Linked DNA regions of Homo sapiens. The gene in region 2 interacts genetically with the main gene of each other region. Each region holds a gene or a part of one and is shown on either strand. Other genes may lie near its edges.

Evidence for each region.
Region 1: changes in ALDH2 (region 2) and XRCC3 are lethal when combined (synthetic lethality), as found in Homo sapiens cells (one large-scale study listed by BioGRID).

What each region holds. Positions count from the first base shown.
Region 1 is NC_000014.9:103,701,766-103,705,576, forward strand, and holds part of XRCC3 (DNA repair protein XRCC3), read right to left. Parts: intron 1,563-3,811; coding exon 1,408-1,562; intron 1-1,407. UniProt on the Homo sapiens protein: Involved in the homologous recombination repair (HRR) pathway of double-stranded DNA, thought to repair chromosomal fragmentation, translocations and deletions. Part of the RAD51 paralog protein complex CX3 which acts in the BRCA1-BRCA2-dependent HR pathway.
Region 2 is NC_000012.12:111,801,414-111,805,224, reverse strand, and holds part of ALDH2 (aldehyde dehydrogenase, mitochondrial isoform 1 precursor), read right to left. Parts: intron 1,367-3,811; coding exon 1,252-1,366; intron 1-1,251. UniProt on the Homo sapiens protein: Required for clearance of cellular formaldehyde, a cytotoxic and carcinogenic metabolite that induces DNA damage.

The DNA.
Region 1 (3,811 bases), on a different chromosome or scaffold from region 2:
CTGGAGGCTAAGGCAAGAGAATGGCGTGAACCCGGGAGGTGGAGCTTGCAGTGAGCTGAGATTGCACCACTGTACTCCAGCCTGGGCGACAGAGCGAGACTGTCTTAAAAAAAAAAAAGAGAAGTGGGGGAAGGCCCACCCAGGAGCTGCTCTGCCAGGCCACAGCCATGTCTAGGGTGGGCTGGACATGGCAGCCGCTCCCCCTGCACAGGGTGGAATTTCCTTACTTGCCTTTGGTCAGGGGTTTACTCCCAAACGTCCCATCTTTTCTTCTGCGTCTTTTCTACTTCATCACTTCTCCCTCCCAGGATGATGTCTATAAACTAAGCACTGACAGCTCACAGCACTGCTGCCCCAGCTGCAGGGATGGGTCCCAGCCTCTCTTGCCTGCTTCTTGGCTACAGGACGGACTCCACTGGCCCCCGGTGAGTGGCCCCTGCTCTCTGCAAGGCCCTGCCATAGGTCCCTCCTCCAAGCCCAGCCAGTGTCTGCAGGGAAGCCAGCAGCCAGGCAGTGGTCAAGGATCTGAGGTCACCTGTCTGAGCTGGGTGCCCAGCAGGCCTTGGCCAGGTGGAGCCCCTGTGCCCCTAGTGAGGGCCGTCTTCCCCTCAGGGGCAAGGGGAAACCAACACAGCTATCTCACCAGGGCAGCAGCCTGGAGAGCAGGTCGCATCCTTCTCAGGGCGGTGGTCTCCTGGGGCAGCTGGTCAGGGGCCCACAGCCCAGAGGAGGTCCTTGCCACCCGCCTGGGGCTTCTCTTCCCCACTCCGTCTTCATGGGCAAGGTTGACAGATGGTGTACAGGCGCCCAGTTACATCTGAGTTTCAGATCATGAAGAAAGTTGATCTGAATATGGGCATCCTCATTCTAGAACACGCTTCAAAGCTGCCTGAGATTCAGATGTAACTGGGTGTCGCAGCCTGCCGCCCTGCCTGCCTGGCCCACAGCCACTCCTGGCCAGGATTCTGTTTGGCCAAACTGCCGTCAGGCTCCTGAGCCTCCTCCTAGGCCCATCTGTGCACGTCCTCATGAAATCCAGTTTTGGCAATCCCTGCTGAGATTGTAGCAGGACCCCTGCTCTCCGTATCCAGTCGCCCTCAGTAGCTGACTGGTCCATCCTCCACAGTCCCCAGAGGCCGTCTGATCCCCAAGGCACACCTTCAGCAAGGGTCCTGGCAGGATGCTTTAGCCAGAATTCCCTCCCCTGCCAGTTCCTCTCAGTCACTCTCCATCCTCTGACCCCACCTGCTCCTCGGGCGTAAACCCCCATGACCCATGCTGTGTTCAGAGCTGAGCCCCAACTCTCCCTGCCCTGCTGTGAGACCCCATTGCCGTGGTGGCTACACCTGCCCCAATGGTCCTGAATAGCTTGCCTTGGGGGTGTCATGGGGCTTCTCCCACACTCACCACATCGGCCACGTGCTCGATGAAGATCTGGCTGCCAAATCGGAGCTTCTGAAGCAGCTCTCCTGGAACGTCAGTGCGCAGCCGCGGCTGCTGGGCCATGAGCTGCTGCAGGCGCTTGTGCGGGAAGGCGTCTTCCGTGCAGATGTAGACGGCTCCTGGGAAGCAAGAGTGCCTGATGTGCCCAGGGGACTCCAGACGGGCCTGTGACTGCCACACAAATCAAGTGCAGATGTCTCCCGCCATTTCTAACTCTCTGCCCCTCACAGGTTCTTTGCCCCTCGCCTGGGGAGGGAGGAGGCTGGTGCTTTTTCTCACCCTCCCACTGGCAGCCACCTCCGGGGCCAGGTGACCCCTCAGGAGGAATATGGGCTGGGTCTCCACTTCTGACACCCAGGCAAGGACTTCCCCTGTCCTGGGCCCTGGGCTGGAATGGCCACAGATGGGAGGCCTCTCCTGCTCCACCCTGCCCCTCCTTCCCCCTGTGAACCTCCGTTCCCCACTGCAGGGCAGGGAGCAAGTGGCAGCATCAGGGCAACGCCTTCTGGAAATGGCCCCTGAGCCCCGACACATGGCCACCCTCAAGGCCCCCACTGAGCAAGCGTTTCCTCTCTTCAAAGCTCCTGCAATCTGGGCTCCATGGTGAAATTCAAAAAGCCAGCTTGAAAAGACACGTGTTGGTGAGGATGTGTAGGAGGCAGACCCCTGACCCCTGTGCACTGCCGCTAGGAATGTAAAATGGTGCAGCTCGGAAAACAATCGGTACTTCCTTAAAAAGTTAAACAAATCACATGACTCAGCAGCCCCACTCCTAGGTAGATACCCAAGAGAAAGAACGTCCACCGTAGCACGTTTCATGACAGCCCGGGGGGAGACGGCCCAAAGGCCATCAACTGAGGAGTGGACGAATGAAGTGCGGCCCATCCTTACAGTGGGATGATCGAATCTTAAAAGGGAAGGCAGTTCTGACACCTGCTCCAGCACGGATGAACCTCGAAAACACAATGCCAATGCAGGAAGCCTGTCACGAGACCACGTGCTGTCCGGCTGCACTTGCATGGAGCTCCCAGGACAGGAAGAGTCACAGGTAGGGAAAGGGGAGGCAGGCTGCTGGGGGTGGGGGCTGACTGCTCATGGGTAGGGTTTCCTTTTGGGGTGAGGGAACTGTTCTGGAATTGGATAGTGGTGACGGGCACAGAACTTTGTGCTTCTATTAAAAGCCACTGAATTTATTTATTTTATTTTAATTTTTGAGAGACAAGAGACTCACTCTGTCGCCCAGGCTGGAGTGCAGTGGTGCGATCTCGGCTCACTGCAACCTCTGCCTCCCGGGTTCAAGTGATTCTCCTGCCTCAGCCTTCTGAGTAGCTGGGATTACAAGGCGTGCGCTACCACGCCCAGCTAATTTTTGTATTTTTAGTAGAGACTGGGTTTCACCATGTTGGTCAGGCTGCTCTCGAACTCCTGACTTCATGATCCGCCTGCCTCAGCCTCGGCCTCCCAAAGTGCTGGGATTACAGGCATGAGGTACTGCGCCTATCAGGCCGAACTGTACACTTTTAGAGGGAATTTTATGGCATGTAAATTACATCTCAATTTAAAAAACAGGAAGGCTTAGGGGGACTGATTTGAGTAATAATAAAACTCCAGTTTCCTGCAAAACAAAAACAAAAAGACAAGGCCGGCGAGCTCTCTAAGCACTGACTATGCCAGGAAGGCTGCCCAGCCAGGACCCCGTGGCCCACGGGGCGTCGTCCTGTTCCTGCAGTGGCACATGCAGTTGTGGGAGAGCCAGTGCCCCCACGCCGTGTCATGCAGCCTGTTTGTGAGTGTCCGCGTAACCTTTAATTCTGAGCTGATTTTGCTTTGACAGAATTTCAAACGTAAAGAAGAGTTGCAAAAATGGGTCAGGAACCCCCCGCCCCATTCTGTGTCAGAACTAAGCTTCTGAGAAGCATCTGGCCCGCTTGAGGCCAGGAACGTATAAATACTGCCTTGGGAGGCCACATCCCTTTTGTGGCTGGTTCCCTTCCCCACCAGTGTCCCCAGCAGTGACTGTGCCCCTAGTCAGGAGCCACAGGAAGGTCGGGGCCCTGGGCTTCCTCCGTCCTGTTGGCTGGAGAGAGGCTGGGCTGGAAGGCTCGGAAGCAGGTGGAACCGGTCAAGCAGCGTGTTTTTGTTGGGGTGACGTTATGTAGGGGCTGCACAGTCATGGGGACATCGTGAAGCTGGCAGGAGGGTGGCTGTGGACAGCCCAGCGGTGGGCGGGGCCCCAGCAGGCCTGGGAGAGCCTCACGCGGCTTAAGCACGGGAGTCGGAATCACTTCAGAGCCCGCCTGCCGCTTTCTTTTCAAAATTCGGGCCTTTAGATTGGATCCAGGAAAGGAAGTCATTTCCCCAGGAAAGC
Region 2 (3,811 bases):
TTTTTATATTTATAAGTAAATGTATCTGAGTATCTATCTATGTACATAAATTCCAAAAATTGGGCTTATATTGATGATATATTAGTTTGTATACTGCTTTTACTTTAAAGGCTAAGCATTTTTCATATCAAATATTCTACAAAAACATTTGTAACAGATACCTGTTACTCCTTGATTGGGGTGTTCCATAATTTATTGGGCATTAAGTTTACATCTGATTTTCCCCTCTTAGAGATAAAGCAGTGATGAATATTTATGGAAGGAACGCTTTCTTTGTATTTCTGATGGGTCCTTCAGGCTATATTCCAGTCATTGAAGTTGCAAATCAAAGGAGATGCATATGGTTATGGGCCTTGATATCTCATGCCTAATAGCTTATGTTTGTATTATTTATTTTTAAATATTTTTATTACTGTGGGAATTGCTCCATTCCAACCTAATAGCTAATTCTTTTTTCTTTTCTTTTTTTTTTTTTTTTGAGACGGAGTCTCGCTCTGTTGCCCAGGCTGGAGTGCAATGGCACAATCTCGACTCACTGCAACCTCCGCCTCCCGTGTTCAAGCGATTCTCCTGCCTCAGCCTCCTGAGTAGCTGGGATTACAGGCGCACGCCACCACACCTGGCTAATTTTTGTATTTTAGTAGAGACAAGGTTTCACCATGTTGGTCAGGCTGGTCTCAAACTCCTGACCTCATTCGTGATCCACCCACCTTGGCCTCCCAAAGTGCTGGGATTACAGGTGTGAGCCACCGTGCCCGGTGAAAAGCCACCGCGCCTGGTGAAAATCTGAAAAGATTCTTACTAGAAGCTTTTCCTCTCCGCTCCGCCCCCTGAAGTCTCTCCCTCTTCTCAGGCCTACAGGCCTTGGCGTATAACGAAGCCCAGCAAATGACCGCATAGGCCTGATGGGGGCACGTCCCTCAGTATTTCTCATGGGACAGAGCAGAGGCTGGGTCTTTACCCTCTCTTGTCACTTCTCAGGCTTAAAATGGGAAATTAGTAGGAAACACTGATGGCCTCAAGCATGAGGGAGAGGCCAAAAGGTGGCCCGCCCAGCAGACCCTAAATCCCTGGCAGGCCCTGATCCCCAGCAGGTCCTGAACTTCCAGCAGGCCCTGAGTCCCCGGCAGGTCCTGAACCTCTGGCAGGCCCCGAGCCCCCAACAGACCCCAATCCCCCAGCAGGCTCCGAGCCACCAGCAGACCCTCAAGCCCCAACAGGCCCTGAGCCCCCAGCAGGTCCCACACTCACAGTTTTCACTTCAGTGTATGCCTGCAGCCCGTACTCGCCCAACTCCCGGCCACTCCCCGACATCTTGTAGCCACCAAAGGGTGACTGGGCTCCAAACACATCATAGCAGTTGACCCTGTAATTTGAAACGAGATTGCAGAAATCACTCTTGGGGGTTATGGGTTACACTCCCAGGACCCCCTGTATTGCCCCAAAGTCTTTATTTTATTTTTAACTTAAAAAAAAATTTTTTTTTTTGAGATAGAATCTTTCTCTGTTGCCCAGGCTGGAGTTGCCATGGCATGATCTTGGCTCGTTGCAACCTCCACATCTGGGGTTCAAGAGATTCTCCTGCCTCAGCTTCCTGAGTAGCTGGACTACCAGCACGTGCAACCACGCCTGGCAATAAATTTTTTTTTAAGAGACAGGGTCTGATTATGTTACCCAGGCTGGTCTCCAACTCCTGGTCTTCAGTGATCCTCCTGCCTCAGCCTCCCAAGTAGTTAAGATAACAAGTATGTGCCACTATGCCTGGCTAATTTTTTTATCTTTTATTTTTTGTAGAGATGGGGTCTCACTATGTTGCCCAGGCTGGTCTCGAACTCCTGGCCTCAAGTAATTCTCCTGCCTCAGGCTCCCAAAGCACTGGGATTACTGGTATGAGCCACTGCACCTGGATGGCTTTCTTTTCTTTTCTTTCATTTTTTTTTTTTGCAATTTAAAAAAATTATTAAATTTTATTTGAATTTGAAATTTACCATTTATTTATTTATTTTTATTTATTATTATTATTTTTTGAGATTATTTTTTGAGATGGAGTTTCACTCTGTTGCCCAGGCTGGAGTGCAGTGGTGAGATCTCAGCTTACTGCAACCTCCGCCTCCCAGGTTCAAGCGAATCTCCAGCCTCCCGAGTAGCTGGGATTACAGGTGCATGCTACCATGCCCAGCTAATTTTTCTATTTTTAGTAGAGACAGGGTTTCACCATGTTGGTCAGGCTGGTCTCAAACTCTTGACTTCGTGATATGCCTGCCTTGGCCTCCCAAAATGCTGGGATTACAGGTGTGAGCCACCACGCTTGGCCTATTTTTAATTTTCTTTTTTTTTTTTTTTTTGAGACAGAGTCTCGCTCCGTCGCCCTGGCTGGAGTGCAGTGGTGCGATCTCGGCTCACCGCAAGCTCCGCCTCCCAGGTTCACGCCATTCTCCTGCCTCAGCCTCCCGAGTAGCTGGGACTACAGGTGCCCGCCACCACACCCGGCTAAATTTTTGTATTTTTAGTAGAAACGGGGTTTCACTGTGTTAGCCAGGATGGTCTTGATCTTCTGACCTCGTGATCCGCCCGCCTTGGCCTCCCAAAGTGCTGGGATTACAGGTGTGAACCACAGCGCCCTGCCCTTTTTCTTTTCTTTTTTTGAGACAGAGTCTCACTCTGTTGCCAAGCTGGAGTGCAGTGGTGCGATCTCGGCTCACTGCAACTTCTGCCTCTAAAGTTCAAGTGATTCTCCTGCCTCAGCCTCCTGAGTAGCTGGGATTACAGGTGCCCACCACTGCGCCCGGCTAATTTTTTTTTTTTTTTTTTTTGAGACAGAGTCTTGCTCTGTCACCCAGGCTGGAGTGCAATGGCACGATCTCAACTCACTGTAACCTCTGCCTCCCGGGTTCAAGCGATTCTCCTGCCTCATCCTCCCAAGTAGCTGGGATTACAGGTGCATGCCACCACACCCGTCTAATTTGTGTATTTTTAGTAGAAACAGGGTTTCACCATGTTGGTCAGGCTGGTCTTGAACTCCTGACATCATGTTCCACCTACTTCGGACTCCCAAAGTGCTGGGATTACAGGTGTGAACCACCACGGCCTTACAGGTGTGAGCCACCAGGCCCAGGCCTAATTTTTGTATTTTTAGTAGAGACGGGGTTTCACCACATTGGCCAAGATGGTCTCCATCTCCTGATCTCGTGATCCGTCTACCTTGGCCTCCCAAAGTGCTGGGATTACAGGGGTGAGCCACTGCACCCAGCCTAAAATTCACCATTTTAAAGTGTACAATCACTGGTTGACAGCATATTCACAGTGTTGTGTGACCATCACCACTGTCTAATTGCAGAACATTTCTATCACACTGAAAGAAGCCCTGTGCCCAGGAGGCAGGCACTCTCCATTCCTCCCTCCCCCAGCCCCTGGCAACCACTAACATACTTTCTATCTCTATGGATTCGCCTATTCTAGATATTTATAATACTGTAAATGGAATCACACAGCATGTGGCCTTTTGTGCCTGGGTTCTTTTTTTTTTTTTTTGGAGTCTCACTCTATCGCTCAGGCTGGAGCGCAGTGGCATGATCTCCACTCACTGCAATCTCCGCCTCCCAGGTTCAAGCGATTCTCCTGCCTCAGCCTCCCGAGTAGCTGGGACTACAGGCACCTGCCACCACAGCCAGCTAAGTTTTGTGTTTTTAGTAGAGATAAGGTTTCACCATGTTGGCCAGGCTGGTCTCAAACTCTTGACCTCAAGTGACCTACCCACCTCGGCTTCCCAAAGTGCTGGGATTACAGGCATGAGCCACCGCACCCAGACAGT